Homo sapiens: one gene and its partners. The protein of the gene in region 1 purifies or fractionates together with the protein of each later gene. This does not show direct contact. Each region holds a gene or a part of one and is shown on either strand. Other genes may lie near its edges. The genes, in order: ZMPSTE24, VSIG1, HK1, GALNT2 and AKR7A3.

Region 1 (3,521 bases):
AAAAGGAATTGTTTTGTTTCTCATTTACTTCTCTCAAAAGTAAACTTTTTTGAAGGCAGGGATGATATTTCAGACCTTATGTTATCCATAGAATCAAGCATATTGCTTGGGATGTAGTAAGTAAGTGCTCAGCAAATACTTGTTGATTTGTTTGCCAGTAGTTCATAAAAACTGGATTTTTGTTTTTTCTTTTGTTTAGATCACTCAGTCCCTGGTGTTTCTGCTGTTGGCTACACTTTTCAGTGCATTGACTGGTTTGCCATGGAGTCTTTATAATACTTTTGTGATAGAAGAAAAACATGGCTTCAATCAACAGGTATAATAAAGAATACAAATGTTCTCTTTTAAATGTGAAAAACTTCTGTGCTTTTGTCCTGTACTGTTTATAATTTAAACATAATTTACTATTTCAGAGTATGAATTGAGAAAAAAGGGAACTACAGATATGGTAAAGATCATAGCTGAAAGTCTTGGGGGCCGCGGTGGCTCTGGCCAGTTGCCCTGGCACTCGGGGAGGCAAGGCTACATGTTCGAGGCCAACCTGGTCAACACTGATTTTAAAAAAAAAATACTTAAGGCCAGGCCCAGTGGCTCATGCCTGTAATCCCAGCACTTTGGGAGGCTGAGGCGGGTGGATCCCAAGGTCAGGAGATCGAGGCCATCCTGGCTAACACCGTGAAACCCGTCTCTACTGAAAATACAAAAAATTAGCCGGGCTTGGTGGTGGGCGCCTGTAGTCCCAGCTACTCGAGAGGCTGAGGCAGGAGAATGGCGTGAACCCGGGAGGCAGAGCTTGCAGTGAGCTGAGATCTCGCCACTGCACTCCAGCCTGGGTGACAGCAAGACTCCGTCTCAAAAAAAAAAAAAAAAAAAAAAAAGAAAGAAAAAAAGTCTTGACTGGGTACAGTGGCTCACGCCTGTAATCCCAACACTTTGGGAGGCTAAGGCGGGAGGATCACTTGAGTTCAGGAGTTCAAGACCAGCTTGGATAGTATAGTGAGACTTCATCTCTACAAAAAAATTCTAAAAGCCAGTTGTGGTGGCATGCACCTGAAGTCCCAGCTACTTGGGAGGCTAAAGCAGGAGGATTGCTTGAGCCCAGGAGGTTGAGGCTACGGTGAGCCATCATTGTGCCACTGTACTCCAACCTGGGCAACAGAGCCAGACCTGTCTCTTAAAAAAAAAAAAGAAATTTATGTTATAAACTCCTTTAGCACTAATATCTATTGTTTTTCAGCTACTAATCATTTGTTTGTTTGCGACAGGGTCTCGTTCTGTCACCTAGGCTGGAGTGCAGTGGCAGGATCATGGCTCACTGTAGCCACGACCTTCCAGATTCAAGCAATCCTCCCACCTCAGCCTGCCTAGTATCTGGGACTATAGATGAATTATACTACACTGGGTTAATTTTTTTATTATTATTTTTAGTAGTGACAGGGTCTCACTATGTTGCCCAGGCTGGCCTGGAACTACTGGGCTCAAGCAATCCTCCCATCTAGGCCTTCCAAAGTGCTGGAATTACAGTTGTGAGCCACTGCACTCGTCCTCAGTTAATAAGGTTTAAATGAATTTTCAGCTGTAAAATGCAAGACATTTACCCATTGTCTTAAGCTGCCTAATGTCATATAATATAGTTTCACTGCATGTTAATTTTAAAAATTGCTTTAATAATGTATCCTTTGTATTTATTTATCAGTTATTTTAAAAAGCAGAACCAGTTTCTCAGTTTCTTGTGGTAATGTTTTCTTTTTGCAGACTTTGGGGTTCTTCATGAAAGATGCAATCAAGAAATTTGTTGTGACTCAGTGTATTTTGTTGCCTGTGTCTTCACTTCTACTTTACATTATTAAAATTGGGGGTGACTATTTTTTTATTTATGCCTGGCTGTTCACATTAGTTGTGTCTCTGGTGAGTAAAATCTTTATTTCGTTTTCTTTTGCAAAAGTTCCTTGGTGAGATTACTGTAATCTTCATTGGCATGTAAACAGTTCTTAAGAAGCAGCTGAAATATAAATAGGTGCTTATATACATTTCCCCCTTGGTTTCTGCTTTTGATTGTAGACACAGGAGTATTGACTGACCATAAATTTCCTTCTCCTTATGCTAACTCTTCAGGTCATAGAAACTAGTTGTTAGTCACTTTTAATGATTCAGTTGTCAGGCAGTTTTGGGTTGTGCATTTGCGAGTTGCCACCAGAATGACTAAGTGTGATAATTTAATGACTCCTGACTGACCTCCACTGCCTAAAATCATGGTTATTTTGAAGAGAAATGAGATTTAAGAGGGACAAGAGAAAGAAAGCATATACTTAACTGGCTTTCTTCTGCTTCCCTTCCCTTGCCTTTCCCTTCCACGTTAGACACTCTCTCCCTTCTTTGCCCCATCTGCTTCCCCTTCCCCTTCTATCTTTTACCCATTCTTCTTCCTTTCCTTCTCCTGTCTTCCCTTTTCTCCCCAACTGCCACCTATTCCTGCCTCTCTTCTCCTTTCCTTTTCCCTCTCACTCTTTTCCCCCTGATTTTTCCCTCCCTCACATCTCCTATTCCTCTTCTCTTTCCATACTCTCAAGTGCTTCACAACACAAACACTACAACGCAGTCAAAATGGTCTGTTCAGGGCCAGGCACAGTGGCTTATGCCTGTAATCCTGGCACTTTGGGAAGCCAAGGTGGGAGGATTGCTTAAGCCCAAGAGTTTAAGACCAGCCTGGGTAACACAGTGAGACTCTGTCTCTACAAATAATAATTTTTAAAAAACCCAAATGAAAAAACCCAAAGTGGTCTGTTCAGTGCACCCAGAAATTATCATCTATCAGCTCTTCAGCTCCACTGATGAGGTTTATTTTATTTTAGAGATAGGGCCTCCCTGTGTTGCCCAGGCTGGAGTACAGTGGCTATTTCACAGGCATGATCATAGTGCACTACAGCTTTGAGCTCCTGGGCTCAAGCAGTCCTCCTGCCTTGGCCTCCTGAGTAGCTGGGACTACAGGTGTGTGACACCATGCCCAAGCTGAGGTTTATTTTAGTCTGAATTACATAATGCTCATTGTTTCATTTTCCATTGATGGGATCAAGATCAGAAAATGGGCGCTAGTTGGATTTACAGGTATCTATTGTATGGCAAATTAAAGTAAGATGAAAAAGAGCAGAGAAAATGCTCTAAAAATGCTTAAGGAAGTGCTATTTCAACCACATTGTACAATTATGAACTACAGGTAATTAATTTTAGCTGATAAGCCAACCAAGTAACAGCACACAATCAAGTTCTACTAATTCTTTTTTGGGAAAGACTTCAGGTCTATTGTGATTACGCTAAAAGGTAGAACTGCGTGTTATGATTGACTCATGAAGCATCAGAAATCCCCAAGATAGTTTTGAAAGGACTATACTTATTACCACCTAGAGATTTTAATCACTGTTAGTAGCATTATCCTTTAAAATAAAATTCATAAGTTTACTCTGTTATCAGACTACTCATTTCAATTTAATTCATCAGACAGATATTATGCTCTTACTATCTGG
Region 2 (3,521 bases), on another chromosome or scaffold:
GGTCAGAACATCCCAGAACCAGGAAGCAACAGAAAATCATTAGCTAATCCCTCCAGTTTTTGAACATTTAAAAACCCCTTTGATCTCCAGTATTTCATTTTATAGGTAAAATAACAAAACTGTTCATAACAAACCTGTAAAGAAGACAGGGCAGAAATTATAACCCCATCTCACAATGGTCAGAGAAAGGTGGACTGACTTGTATAAGGTCACTGAGTACAGAGTAAGATCTAAAACTCAGGTCTTCTGAGTGCCAGTTTGATGCTTTGGCATTTATAGCACATCACTTAGTTCCCATGTATATAACTAACTAGTTGATATGGTTTGGATCTGTGTCCCCACCCAAACCTCATGTCAAATTGTAATCACTAATTTTGGCGATAGGGCCTGGTGAGAGGTGACTGGATCATGGGGGCGGATTTCCCCCTCGGTGCTGATCTTGTGATAGTGAATGAGTGCTCATAAGACCTGGTTGTTTAAAAGTGTGTGGCATCTTCCCCTCCCCTTCCTCCTGTTCCAGCCATGTGAGACATCTTGCCTCCCCTTTGCTTTCTGCCATGATTGTAGTTTCCTGAGGCTTCCCAAGAAGCTGCTATGCTTCCTGTACAGCCTGCAGAACCGTGAGACAATTAAACCTCTTTTACTTATAAATTACCCAGTCTCAGGTATTTCTTTACAGCAATGCAAGAATAGACTAATACACTAGTCTTCCAAACTGAAACAGAAACTCTCCCAGGAATTTGCTTGAGTAATACTTCTCTTGTCTGTTCCTGTACCCCAATTCCTGGCACAGAACTCAGTAAGATAAAAATATGATTGATTAAGCTAACCCACTCTTAAAAAATAGCTCTTAGGTACCTTTCCCTCTTTCCCAGGTGGGTAGATGCAGTGGCAAACCTCACAGTAAATGTCAGCTGGTTCCTTTGTGGCATTACCTGAGTGGCAAGCCAGGACAACTGTAAACAGTTCTCTTGGGTATGCACCTTGTTACCAATTGCTGCTTTTCCAAGCTACTCAACTATTAAGTCACTGATTTGATGTAGTTCCTCCTTTCTTGTGATGTGTGCACACAGCTTGAGAGCAGCAATGACTAGATCAGCTTCATTTGGGGCTACCTAGAAGTGGGAAAATGCTCATCTCAACTGGTCTGTCTGTAAGAGTTGAGGATTGGCAGCCCTTTCATCCCTTGCTTCGATACTTCCCAATACCAGCCTGCAGATGGAAGTTTAGCCCACATTGTCCTCTCAGACAGAGATTGTAAGGACTTCTAGAAATGGCCAAAATTGGGAGCTTCCCAAGGGCAAAAACAACACCTCCATCACTGTAACTCAATAAATACTGAACAAATGAGATTCCAAATTCATTTTAAGAGCAGATACGGCTTGCCCAATATCATATAATGAATATTTGTATGTAAATATGTTGATTCTCAACACTAGATTAATTTCAGTCCTTTTTCCAAATAACATTAGCATTTTAAAAAAGGGACTCTCCTGTCTTTATTTAAAAGAATAATTTAATGGTGGGAATTGTGTCGAGCTTAAAAGGAATAATAAGTTGACAGTAGTCTCCCCCAGGTAGATCTGGCTGTAAATGGAGGTTTCCTCTAAAAGAGTTGCTAGTGATCATTTTGTGGGACAGTGGATTGTCTCATCTGTTCTCATTCCATCCCTCAGAGATAGGGATCACTGGAGGTTGGGTCATCTACTGCTGTCATTTTGGCAGCCCGTTTGCACAATTGTTCTGCATGTTTTATGAGTGATTTCTCAGTGTTACTGTTTTGGTTGGGCTGGTGGCTTGTCTCTATTTCCCTGATAATGAAAATATTAGGGAGTATATTTACCTACAGAGACTTAATTGGCATCATAACTCACTGTCCTGGCTCATTCAGTGTCCTAACTTTTTCCAAGAAAAGAAAAAGCAGAAAAAAGTGCTCATACCTAACACACTGACGTTGAGGATGCCTTGGTTTTGGCCGAGAAAGTCTGGGGGGTTGTTAACATCGCAGATGTAAATTCCACTGTCTGCTGGCTGCATATGCGAGATAGTGATAGATGCATTACCTGGATCGTTGGACCCTGTAATTCGATCTTTAAATTGCCCGATGGCTACAGCTTGTCCACCTTGAGAAAAGTAAATCTAGACAGAAAAATAACAGAAGTGAGAACTGGAGAGAGTCCAGGACTAGGATAAGCTACCTGAAAGCTTCTTCTAAACACATTACCTTTGATAAAGAAGCAGCATCTTCCCCCCACCAGGAACAGGTCCCTGTGGCCAAGGTTTCTCAACTCAGTGGGGCACTTTAGTTTGCTCACAGCTGCGCATTTGGCCCTCAGAGCAGCTCTGTGATGTCATCAGGGCAGGGATTAGTATGCCTATCTTACAGAGGAGGAGGCAGCTGGAGCTGACAGGATTCAACACCTAAGCTTGGGCTAGGAGATCAAGATGCTCACTTAATGAATCCACCTGAGAGAAACTCATTATGTAGAACACAAATGTCTGATGGGAAACCAAAACCATCATTTTTTTTTTTTTACCATTTTATAAACTTCTTAAAATTTGAATTTACCTTACCCAGTGAGACTATCTGGTTTCCTTAAATGTTCAAATGTTCATGCTCCTTTTAGACACACCTACTCTTTTGGATAGACAAACTTGGGTTTGTTTTGTTTATTAGAAGCAAAGCGGAAAAGCATCTTAGAAATCATCTGGTCCCATCCCTTTATAGTGGTGTTGTGAAGATGAAACTAAGAAATCTAGTAAAGGACCTCGGAAGTGCTCAGCCAATGATAGCTACCATCTTTCTCCCCATGTGGCAGAAGGCAGAACTGGAATTCTTCTGTCATTTAAACAAATAAGGCATCTCAGACCCAGAGAGATTAAGTGACCCATCTGAAGCCACAAGGGCTCATTTATTATTATTATAACTTATTAAACTTAAGATCTGGATTCTAGTCCCATTTCTATTAAAGAGCATAGATACTTAGATCATAATGGCAACTGTGGGAGCAGCATGATGTGGTGGAAAGGGTCCTGGTCTAGGGGTCAGGTGGCTTGAGTTAGTCACAGCTCTGCCCCTCACTGTGATATAGTTAGGGGAGGTGGCCTCTAGTCATGCCTCCATGGCAGCCTGGTTTTAGATAAGAAACAAAGTTATTTAATCTCTCCAACCTTTACTTTCCACATCTGAATGAGAAAAGAGAGTAATGTTTTCCAAAGTATGATATGTATTTACCAAGTATAGGCATTTAAGTTGATTTTAGGTAGTATATAAATGAAAACTTACAAATTTCAATGTGTATTAGAAACAGAAAAATCTAGCACATTAAATCTATGACTTCCTGAATATTGTTGCATAGGGTAGATTAAGGTAGATATTTTTTAAGATTTTAAGAAAACAAGTCAATACAGAAAATAACATTAAATAACAAATAGTGCTGGTGATACACAAATATGACAAAAATCATGTAGATGGTACATGAATGACTGAAGCTGGGAAATCACTGGATTAGGTAATTCCT
Region 3 (3,521 bases), on another chromosome or scaffold:
CAGGTGTGAGCCACCACACCCGGCCATGTATTTTCTTATTCTTTTTTTTTGAGATGGAGTTCTGCTCTGTTGCCCAGGCTGGAATGCAGTGATGTGATCTCGGCTCATTGCAACCTCTGTCTCCTGGGTTCAAGCGATTCTCCTGCCTCAGCCTCCTGAGTAGCTGGGATTACAGGCACCAGCCAATGCTCCTGGCCTGCATTTTTTTTTTTTTTTTTGAGATGGGGTCTCACTCTGTATCCTGGGTTGGAGTGCAGTGGTGTGATCTCAGCTCACTGAAACCTCCATCTCGCGGGTTCAAGTGATACTTCTGCCTCAGTGCCCCCCCCTGCCCCCCAGTAGCTGGGATTACAGTCGCCTGCCACCATGCCCGGCTAATTTTTGTATTTTAAATAGAGACTGGGTTTCACCATGTTGGCCAGGCTGGTTTCAAACTCCTGACCGCAAGTGATCTGCCCGCCTTGGCCTCCCGAAATGCTGGGATTACGGGTGCCAGCTACTGCCTCTGGACTGCATTTTTTTTTTTTGAGACAGAGTCTTACTCTGTCGCCTGGGTTGTAGTACAGTAGCACGATCTCACCTCCCTGCAACCTCTGCCTGCCAGGTTCAAGCGATTCTTCTGCCTCAGCCTCCCTAGTAGCTGGGATTACAGGTGCCTGCCACTACACCCAGCTAATTTTTTGTATTTTTTGTAGAGACGGGGTTTCACCGTGTTGGCCAGGCTGGTCTTGAATTCCTGACCTCGTGATTCACCCGCCTCGGCCTCCCAAAGTGTTGGGATTACAGACGTGAGCCACCGCGCCTGGCCGCTTTTTTTTTTTTTAATGGCTTTTTGTCTCTGGGCATCCTGGAACACTTCGTGAGTGTCATGTCGGGTATGAATTATATATATATGTAATTGAGATTACACTATAAATGTTTCTGCACACAACTATACTAACATATGTGTAGGTGTGTGTATGCTTTCATATGCTCTTTCAAAAGCCTCAGCGAGGTTGTCAGTACAGGAAGTATTATTCCCGGGCTTCCCAGCACGGCTCCCTCCCCAGGGCATCCTGCTGCCTGCCTTGTGTGTTGCAGACAGAAGGCAAGCAATTTATTCCCCATTTAGAAACAGAGACTGAAGGCCCATCCAGAGGAGATAAAACATTTTTCTAAGGTCGAAAGAAAATCAGGAATAGGATTCAGAGGGCTCTTCTTGCTTCCTCTGTTTCCTTCTTTTAGGAGAAAAACCTGTCCTTGTTGATTTTAATGTTTTACCTTGGAACCTGTATTTTAATACTGTCCCCTCACAAATCAATACATTTGAGTTAATTTTTTATTATGAAATATTTGAGGCACATAAAAGAAGATTGAGGTTCACATAAACACCTCTGAGTCTGCTACTCAGCTTGAGAAGTTATAGACACAATTACAATTACATTACAGACACAGTTGAAGCCCTTTCTATGCCATCTCTGAGATAGTTTGCTGCTTCTCCCTTCGGAGGTGACCTCTGTCCTGAATTTGGTGTTTATCTTTTCATGCATGTTTTTACGCTTTTATTACATATGCATATGTCTATAAACAGTATATGGTATTGCTTTATAGATATATGGTTTTGATCTTTTGTAAATGGTGCTATACTGACTATGTGTTTAAGCAATATATGGTATTGCTTTGTGTGGTTTTAAACTTTTTTTTTTTTTTTTTTTTTTGAGATGGAATCTCATTTTGTTGCCCAGGCTGGAGTGCAGTGGCACGGTCTCAGCTCACAGCAACCTCTGCCTCCTGGGTTCAAGCAATCCTCCTGCCTCAGCCTCCTGAGTAGCTGAGATCATACCTGGCTAATTTTTTTGTATTTTTAGTAGAGACGGGGTTTCACCATGTTGGTCAGGCTGGTCTCAAAATCCTGACCTCAAGTGATCCACCTGCCTAGGCCTCTTTCCAAAGTTCTGGGATTATAGGCCTGAGCCCCCACACTCAGCCAGTTTTAAACTCTTATAAATGGTGCTATACTGTATGTATCCTTCCGCCATTTACTTTCTTTTAGCTCAACATTGTATTTTTGAGATTTTAAAAATGTTGATCTACGTAACTGTTTCATTAAACTGCTCTGGTTTCTTACAGAGTATAAAAGCTCCCTAGTTAATTCATCTATTCTGCTTTTGATAGGCATTTGTGTTTCTAATGTTTCAAGTGACAAACAATGCCTTGGTGAACTTTCTCTAGAACAACTCATTCAGCGCATGCACAAGTTTCTCTAGGCTCTAAGCTGTGTACCTAGGGCTGAGATCACCAGGCGGAGAGATGTGTGCGTTTTCCCATATACGAGATTCTGCCAAGTTGCCATCCGTGGTCATGCCAGTTCACACTCCCATCGGAAGTATGTGCAGGTTGCCTTTGTTCCACACCAACCCTTGTTATGGTCAAACCTTTGCAAATTTGTAATAGATGAGTTTTAGTCTGTTTCCTTCCTCAGTTGTTTCCATTCACATCACAGTATTCGAGCTGTGTTTAAAATTAGCCCATTTCCTGAGTTACCTTATCAGAGTCCTTGCTTCAGAGTCCCACGGACTGAAGTTGACAGCTCCATGGACTGCTGCTGCTGAGATATCTGCACTGGGGAGGGATAGTTGATGCAGGGAAAGGCTTAGGATGGCTCTCCATGGCCCCTGGTGCTGTGGGCTGACTCCGTTAAGCTTTTCTGGGAGTTGAAACACACATTTGTGAGCTTTCACTTGCACACACTTTCTCTCTTCCCGGGTGGATCCGACCCGGGTAGGGCAGGCTTATCTGTTGCGTAAATGTGCCCAGCTCTGCTCAGAGAAAACTCAAGCCAGCAGCCTCTCAGACCGTCTTCCGTAAAAGGAGAGGGTGGCTGTACCCACGTGGCAGGGAAAACTGAACCGTGAAGTCGGCGGCTCAGCCCTTTGCACACAGAAGCTGAGCTGTCCCTGTGCGAGGCAGAAAATGTCGGCTCATGTTCATCTTGAGTCTATGCCTGATTACAGGCTCCAGACTCGGAGACCTCGAGGGTGCCTTACAGGGAAGGGGGCATTCAGTGCCTACTAGGCGCCCGGCTTTTCTTTTTCTTAGCAGGGGTCTTATTTAATCATTTCTAGTACTCATATGAACCAAAGCCAACATTCATTGTTGTATTCATTGCCATGTACTGTGCTAAAGGCATCGTGAGCCTTTGCTTAGTTCATCCCCACAACGCCCTTGTGAGGTGGGTGTGATTTCAGACGGTGAGGCCCAGATAGTGAACGATAGAGCCAGCATTCAGCCTCATCAAGGCTGATGGCAGAGCTCCTGCTTTTATTATTTTCTCAATTGAGTTATAATTCACCTACCATGAAACGCATCATTGTACAGTGTACAATTCAGTGGTTTCTAATAGATTTACAAGGTTGTCCGAGCACCATCACCATCTAATTCCAGAATATTTTCATCACCCTCCGAAAAAAACTACCCGTTAGCAGTCACTTCCCATTTCTTCCTCCACCTAGCTTCTGGCAACCACTATCTACCTTTTTTTT
Region 4 (3,521 bases), about 190 Mb from region 1:
CTTTGGGAGGCCGAGGCAGGCAGATCACCTGAGGTCAGAAGTTCAAGAATAGCCTGACCAACATGGAGAAATCCCATCTCTACTAAAAATACAAAAATTAGCTGGGCGTGGTGGTGCATATCTGTAATCCCAGCTGCTTGGGAGGCTGAGGCAGTAGAATCACTTGAACCCGCGAGGCGGCGGTTGTGGTGAGCCAAGATCACGCCATTGCACTCCAGCCTGGGCAACAAGAGTGAAACTCCGTCTCAAAAAAAAAACAAAACAAAAAAACAAAAAAGATAGAATTACAGATGAGGCAAACGTAGAATCTGGAAATCTCTGGTTGATTTGGTTAACCTTCTGCTGTGATAATATTGATACTTACCACATCTCTCTCACACACACACACTCCCACATAGAAATATATTCCTAATTTTGATGTATGAGCATTTTAGCAGTGACTCCATTCCTGAAGTTTACTGCAGCTCACAAATCACTAATGGTATTTGGGCAAACAGAAAAGGACCCTTGGGACACAGCAACACAGTTTTTGCCTTTAGCTGGGTGAACTGATGGCTACCTGTCCCATAACCATGGGTGTCTCCACTCCTAGAGTGACTCCTGCTACGCACCCACTCCTGACCTCCCTCCCTGCCTCCCAGCAGGCCACAGCACATCTGTGGATGGCCAAGAGCAAGACCTTCTGGGTCTGGGTGGGGAGGCTGGGTTCTTGAGGGCCTAGGGTAGTAGGTAGTAAGGGCCAGTTGGGTTTGCCCTGTGCCTGCCTAATACTAATGCCTTCTGTGGTTGGGCAGGTTTTTTGTTTTGCTGGGATTTTGATAACTACTCCTCTCTTTGTATTTTAGGACAGGACTCGGGTTGTGTCACCCATCATCGATGTCATTAATATGGACAACTTTCAGTATGTGGGGGCATCTGCTGACTTGAAGGGCGGTAGGTGTCTGTCATGGTGCCCCTGCCTAGCTCGTCCCGTCTACACCAGCATCTGATCACCACTCCCTCTCATTGTCAGGAGTGACAGTGACAACAGTGTTCACGCCGTAGTGTGTGTTCTGAGTAAAAACCACCTGTGTGCTTAACGAGTAGGACTTCATAAAGAGAAAAAAAAATAGGCTTGCTCCCTTAAAGAGCTTCCTGGGTTTCCCTTTCTCCTCTTCCTTGACCTTCTGTCACTTTTGCGAGCCATGTGGTTCCATGAACAGATATGGCGTCCTTTATGACCAGAGATGATGAAGCCCTCCTTGCAGGAATCTGGGGTGAGAAGCTTCACGGAGCTGAGGCTTTGTGGGATTCAAGGGGCTGGAGCCTGTCTTTGCCTTCTCTGCTCACCCTGGCTATTTCTCTGACAGCCTGGTCTCTTTCTGGTTGCTCAGATGGAGACCTGTGTCATCCTCAACCCCCTCGCCCTCACCAAGCCCACGTGTGACCCTGTTCTGCTGATACAGCCCCTTGCATGTATCATGGTTTCTTGTACCCCTCTTTCCCAGCCCAACACCTGTGCCTACATCACCCTGGTCCCCTTCCGTTGGAATGACCACACCAGTTTCCTGTATGTCCTCACCGCACCCACCCTGGAGCCCCAAGAGCACTTTGTCTGTTTACCCTCTTAAAAATTATCAAAGACCTCAAAGAGCTTTCATCTGTGTGAAGATGAACTATTCTAGATAGACACTGGGCAGAGGGTTAACTGATGGTCTAACATCAAAAAAGAAGACAGTAAAACTATAAAATAGGGCCTTGACCAGGTGCAGTGGCTCACGCTTATAATCCCAGCACTTTGGGGAGGCTAAGGTGGGAGGATTGCTTGAGCCCAGGAGTTCAAGACCAGCCTGGGCAACATAACAAGACTCTTGTCTCTATTAAAAAAAAAAAAAAAAATTAGCTGCGTGTGATGGCATGCCAGCTACTCGGGGCTAAGGTGGGAGGATCACTTGAGCCTGGGAGGTCAAGGCTGCAGTGAGCCACGATCAACCCTGGGAGACAGAGTGAGACCCTGCTTATTCATACACACACACATATGTGTGCAAGCAAGCCTTAACCCCAGAAAACAGAATACTTGGACTTTTTAGGGAGACTCAGCCACGGTCCTAGACATTGTGGGCTTTGGCCCCACCTGCCTCTTGCAGGCCCCGTCATCATGGGCAGGCCATTTTGCCTCTGCTTCTCAGCTTCCCCCTCTGGGAAATGGGATGATAATTGTGCTGGCCACACAGGGCATAATGGAATTAGACATCAGCGGGAGGGCGGGCATGCTTGGAGGACTGTACCTAGGGTGGGAAACATAACATTCAGGAACGATTCCCAGCAAATGGTGAGAAGTAAAATGTTTGGGGACATTAAAGAGGAGGGATCCTTAGATAGCTAGAAAGCCTGGCTTTCAGAATGTTGTATTTCCCCAAGTATTCGAAGAGCTGAGATCTACCAGGCTCTATTTCTCCCAAAGCAGCTGCGTATGTCAGAGCAGGGGCAAGAACAGCCAGGTGTTCCGTGTGGGGGTGCAGGTCTTCTGGGTCAGAGGAACGGGGCCACGTTCACCCTAAGAGCATTTTATGAAATTCCTTTAGAAAAAAAATCAAGGATGCCATTCTTAACAGATCTTTAATCTGCTATAGCCTCTCTCTTTGGACCAAATTAATAAAATAAATAATAAGATAATAGTAAACATCAAAAAAACAAAGGAAAGGTTATGTCAGCTAATCCTTAACCTTCTCTGTTAGTGAAACAGCCAGGACATTGTTTTTCTGGTTTTCCTTCGTGGCCTTTGAGGCACCATGATAAGAGCCAGCTCAGGGGCCCGCAGGGGTCTCCTCTCTGTGCATTTCTGTCCCCACTGCCTGGGCCCCTGTCCATTTCCCTCTCTCTTTGCCTGAGGCCACTCTATCCTGCAGTGAGGGAGCTGGGAGGCCTCTTTGTCCAGAGCCATAAATTCTTGGCCAGCCCAGGACACTCAGAAACCCTCACCCGCCATCCTTCAGTCACTGGGGCTGTCAGGGCGGACAGACTATGAATTCAAAGCATGCAGACAAATCCAAACTTAGGCATTGCAAAAGCCCTGTTGACAAAAAGCCTGATGGCAGAGAGCTTAAGAGGATTGAAAGATGCATGCCCTAGAGTCATTAGGTTTTGCTGTCAGACCCTTGGAATTGGAAATGCAGCACCATGAGCCATGTGTTTGCCAAGAAGTGGCCTCCTGATGCACCAGGACAGCTTCCGCAGGTGGAGCCTGCTGGCCTCCAAGAGGCACTATGTGTGTGACCCTGGGAGCAAGAGCGAGACCTGAGGCCCTGCAGATGCCCACAACCAAGTCCGGGTACAGGGTCTAGGCTCTTCTATCCTCAGGGGTCTGTGGATTCCAAAAATGAAATGCAACAGGTGCCAAATATATCTGAAATTGAAGCTTATTTGCCCAGCTTGGCAACTTCCGCTGGCTCATTTTCCCTTAAAGTTTTCATATTCCCAGCATGTTCCCACTCCATTCTTGCTGCAAATACAGTCTGAAGTTTGCTGGCCCAGGGAACTGA
Region 5 (4,126 bases), about 21 Mb from region 1:
CTGTTTTGAGACAGGGTCTCAATCTGCAGCTTCGACCTCCCAGGCGTAGATGATTCTCCCACCTCTGCCTCCCAAGTAACTGGGACCACAGGTGCATGCTACCACAATTTGATAATTTTTAAAATTTTGTTGTAGCGATAAGATCTCCCTGTGTTGCCCAGGCTAGTCTCAAACTCCTGGACTTAAGCAATCCTCCCTTCTCAGGCTCCCAAAGTGCTAACATTACAGGTGTGGGCTAGTATGTCACCCACTGTGTGGGCCAGTATTCTTTGTTTTGCAATCTACTTTGTCTGATATTCACTTAGCCATTCCAACTTCTTAAAATTTAGTTTTGTCAGTGTATGTCTTTTCCCATCTTTTTGCTCTTAAACTATCTCTGCTTTTATATTTGAATAGCTTTCTGGTATTTACCATATAGTTTGGTTTTGCTTTTTTATCCATTCTAACAATCACTGCCTTTTACTTGTGAGCATTTACATCATTTATATTTATGTAATTATTGATATGATTGGGTTTAAATCAATTTTGCTATTGGTTTTTCATTTGTTCCATCTGTCTATTGGTCTTTTTTTTTCTTTTGTATTTGGAGACAGATTTGCCCTCTGTCACCCAGGGTGGAGTGCAGTAGAGCTATCACAGCTCACTGCCGCTGGGCACTGGTCCATTTTTCTATCTTTTTTTTTTTCTTTTGAGACAGGGCCTCCCTATGTTGCCCAGGCTGGGTTCAAACTCCTGGGCTCAAGTGATCCTCCTGCCTTGATCTCTCAAAGTGTTGGCATTACAGGCGTTAAGTCACCAGAGCCAGTCAGTTTTTTTTCACTTAGGTACAGAATTCAATGCCAACAGTTCTTTTCTTTCAACACTTTAACCATGTCACTCCATGGGGACGCTGTCTTGAGCCTTTGGTAAGCCTCATTCTCCAGGACCACACGGCAGGCGCGACAGCCCTAGGTCCACCCCACCCCGTAAGCGCTCCCTCCGGGAGGAGACAGAAACCCAGGACAGCTCCGGGGCAAGGCCGAGGAAGGAGGGACGACGGGGCAGGGAGGCCCGAAGAGTCCCCGCCTTTTGGGATAGTCGCCACCCTTGGACCCCCTCACCCTTGGGGACGTTGAGGAGTGTTAAAATCTCCAAGACGCGAGTCACCGGTACGAAGCCACAGCCATTTCGCTGCTTGCTCGGTGCAAGTGCAGAAGGTCCTAGTAGCCGAGCGTGGAGTCGAGCTCGTGGGCGGCGTCGGGCACCTTCGGCCGCGCCCTCAGCTGCACCCGCCGGTGGGCGGGGCCCGAGCCCGTCTCTAAAGCCACGAGGCCGCCCGCTCCGAGCCTGGTGCTTCCGACCGCTGCGCGCGGCTCCTGGGCTGTCACAGTCTCCCGTTGCCGCCGTCATGTCCCGGCAGCTGTCGCGGGCCCGGCCAGCCACGGTGCTGGGCGCCATGGAGATGGGGCGCCGCATGGACGCGCCCACCAGCGCCGCAGTCACGCGCGCCTTCCTGGAGCGCGGCCACACCGAGATAGACACGGCCTTCGTGTACAGCGAGGGCCAGTCCGAGACCATCCTTGGCGGCCTGGGGCTCCGGCTGGGCGGCAGCGACTGCAGAGGTAACAGTGGCCCCTGATCCTCCCCCTGCACGGTGCAGAGCTGAGCCTGTCCACAGCCGTGTACCGCCCCGCTCTCCCTGGCCCCGGGGCAGCACCCAAAGTTTTGTCCCCCCCACCGCCCCCACCCCTGTTCACCTCGCAGCCTTGGGAACACCAGGCTCCTTAGGCACGTCTAGCTCCGGACAACTTTTCTCTCGTCTTCTCTTCTGTTCGTCTCTCTTCTCTTCCGGGAGGTAGCCAGCACCCTCACTGACGCCTGGATGACTTGGTCTTGCCTGGAATGACTTGGCTAGCCCCTCTCTGGAGCACAAAAAACACTGGGATCTGGCATTGTGCAGCTCCTGTCCCCACCTGTGCCCTCCAGGTGCCCTTGACGGGCCTGATCTGCAGAAATTCTGTTCTTACCGCCTGGCACTCCCTGGCACAGTCCAAAATCAGAGTTTGGACCCAGCACACTATCTGCTTCCTCCTTTGCACATGCCAGCCTGCTCGGGGCCCCGGACTTTGCTCTGAGTACCTTGTGGTACTCACAAGGGCACCTCACAAGGGTGGCAGTGCCCGGAAGCCTTGGCAGCTCCCTCAGGGGGATGAGGGATTGGGGTGGTACAGAGTCTCACTGCCCTCTCTGTGGGAGGCTCTGTCGGAGGCTATTGGAGAGAAATGGACACTAACCCACTCCAGGAAGCTCCAGTTCTAGAGATGGCTGGGGAGCCCAGAGTGACCCCTTCCTGGGAGGGACCCCGTGAAGAAAGAATGGATAGGAGTTTGCCAGGAAGAGTACAAGGGGCAAGGGCGTCAGGGCAGTGGGCATGGGTGTGGAAAGGCAAATGTGTTTTGGCAATGCCGCGGGTGCTGGAGGAGGCAGGTGTGGCCGGAGGGGAGGATGTGTGTATAGGGGCAGGAGGAGCCGCCCTCAGTCTGATGCCATTTGCAGTGCTTAGGCCGATGCCTGGCAGGCACATAGTGAGGGCTGGGAAATGTTAGCTGTTTGTTTGTTCTTAGTATTAGCACCATTTGCCTCCTTCCACTGAGTGTCTGAGTGGAGTCTTATTTCTCCTCTGATTCACCACATGGTAGATCCAGAACGAACCTGGCCTGTGCGTGCATCCCAGTGCCACGCTCTTTCTAGATCACCCGGCTGCCACTCAGTGAGAGCTCTAACCATATTTCTGATTTTTTTTTTTTTTTTGAGACAGGGTCTTGCTTTTTTGCCCAGGCTGGAGTGGAGTGGTGCGATAGGGCTCATTGCAGCTTTGACCTCTCAGGGCTCAAGCCATCCTCCCACCTCAGTCTCCTGAGTAGCTGGGACTACTACAGTAGCACCACACCCGGCTAATTTTTTGTATTATTCATTGAAACTGGAGTCTCACTTTGTTGCCCAGGCTGGTCTTAAACCCCTGAGCTCAAGTGATCCTCCTGCTCTGGCCTCCCAAAGTGCTGAGATTACAGGTGTGAGCCACCACAGATCTGTACCCTCTGCCTGGCCCTTATTTCTGATTTTTTTTTCTTTCCTTTTTTAATCCTTCTTTGTCTTCTGTCTGAGTCCAAGGTTGGCTGGCGAAAGTCCTCAGATCTGATCTGAAGTTAAATTCAATTGAGAAGCAGAGGGGTGGTGGTGGAATGGAAAAATTCCATATGAATAGTTCCTCAAACCTGCTCTTTGCTAGGCCTCAAGGGCTCCAGTGACTGCCCTCCTGCCAGCCTAGGTGACTTTCTAAGTGTGAAAAGTGGGAAGAGGACTCTCCACTCACCTGTTAGTCCAGTTCACTAGGAACTAAGATTCTTTTTTTTTGTTGTTTGTTTTGTTTGTTTGTTTGTTTTTTGAGAAGTCTCACTCTGTGAGACATTGTGCTGTGGCACAATCTCGGCTCACTGCAACCTCCGCCTCCCGGGTTCAAGCAATTCTCCTGCCTCAGACTCCGGACTAGCTGGGGACTACAGGCGGGCTCCACTATGCCCAGCTAATTTTTGTGTTTTTATTAGAGATGGGGTTTCACCATGTTGGTCCAGCTGGTCTTGAACTCCTGACCTTCTGATTTGCCTGCCTCAGTCTCCCAAAGTGCTGGGATTACAGGCATGAGCCACGGCGCCTGGCCCTGAATTTCATTTCTCTTTCCTCTCAGTGAAAATTGATACCAAGGCCATTCCACTGTTTGGGAACTCCCTGAAGCCTGACAGTCTCCGGTTCCAGCTGGAGACGTCACTGAAGCGGCTGCAGTGTCCCCGAGTGGACCTCTTCTACCTGCATATGCCAGACCACAGCACCCCGGTGGAAGAGACACTGCGTGCCTGCCACCAGCTGCACCAGGAGGTGAGGGGACCCCTGAGCTCTGGGAGGTGGTCCACTGCTGCTCTCCTTATCCTGATCCTAATGGTGAGAGCAGAGGCACCAGGGCTGTTCCAGGGTGGAGCAGGGAACAGCCCAACTCCCAGGGGCCCCACCCTGGCCTCCCTTTCCTGGTCTGGGCTGCACTATGTTCTGACTGGAGCCTCACCTGAGCAGGGCAAGTTCGTGGAGCTTGGCC

What was found.
Region 2: the proteins of ZMPSTE24 (region 1) and VSIG1 purify together in Homo sapiens (co-immunoprecipitation; one large-scale study listed by IntAct). This does not show direct contact.
Region 3: the proteins of ZMPSTE24 (region 1) and HK1 fractionate together in Homo sapiens (co-fractionation; one large-scale study listed by BioGRID). This does not show direct contact.
Region 4: the proteins of ZMPSTE24 (region 1) and GALNT2 fractionate together in Homo sapiens (co-fractionation; one large-scale study listed by BioGRID). This does not show direct contact.
Region 5: the proteins of ZMPSTE24 (region 1) and AKR7A3 purify together in Homo sapiens (co-immunoprecipitation; one large-scale study listed by IntAct). This does not show direct contact.

Annotation. Positions count from the first base shown.
Region 1 is NC_000001.11:40,268,220-40,271,740, forward strand, and holds part of ZMPSTE24 (CAAX prenyl protease 1 homolog), read left to right. Parts: intron 1-199; coding exon 200-316; intron 317-1,755; coding exon 1,756-1,908; intron 1,909-3,521. UniProt on the Homo sapiens protein: Transmembrane metalloprotease whose catalytic activity is critical for processing lamin A/LMNA on the inner nuclear membrane and clearing clogged translocons on the endoplasmic reticulum.
Region 2 is NC_000023.11:108,065,554-108,069,074, reverse strand, and holds part of VSIG1 (V-set and immunoglobulin domain-containing protein 1 isoform 2 precursor), read right to left. Parts: intron 2,140-3,521; coding exon 1,941-2,139; intron 1-1,940.
Region 3 is NC_000010.11:69,325,326-69,328,846, forward strand, and holds part of HK1 (hexokinase-1), read left to right. Parts: intron 1-3,521. UniProt on the Homo sapiens protein: Catalyzes the phosphorylation of various hexoses, such as D-glucose, D-glucosamine, D-fructose, D-mannose and 2-deoxy-D-glucose, to hexose 6-phosphate (D-glucose 6-phosphate, D-glucosamine 6-phosphate, D-fructose 6-phosphate, D-mannose 6-phosphate and 2-deoxy-D-glucose 6-phosphate, respectively).
Region 4 is NC_000001.11:230,245,218-230,248,738, forward strand, and holds part of GALNT2 (polypeptide N-acetylgalactosaminyltransferase 2 precursor), read left to right. Parts: intron 1-845; coding exon 846-933; intron 934-3,521. UniProt on the Homo sapiens protein: Catalyzes the initial reaction in O-linked oligosaccharide biosynthesis, the transfer of an N-acetyl-D-galactosamine residue to a serine or threonine residue on the protein receptor.
Region 5 is NC_000001.11:19,285,971-19,290,096, reverse strand, and holds the start of AKR7A3 (aldo-keto reductase family 7 member A3), read left to right. Parts: upstream 1-1,326; 5' UTR 1,327-1,387; coding exon 1,388-1,601; intron 1,602-1,736; exon of another isoform or gene 1,737-2,037; intron 2,038-3,724; coding exon 3,725-3,912; intron 3,913-4,104; coding exon 4,105-4,126. UniProt on the Homo sapiens protein: Catalyzes the NADPH-dependent reduction of various carbonyl-containing compounds, including aldehydes, ketones, and toxic products from cellular metabolism or environmental exposure.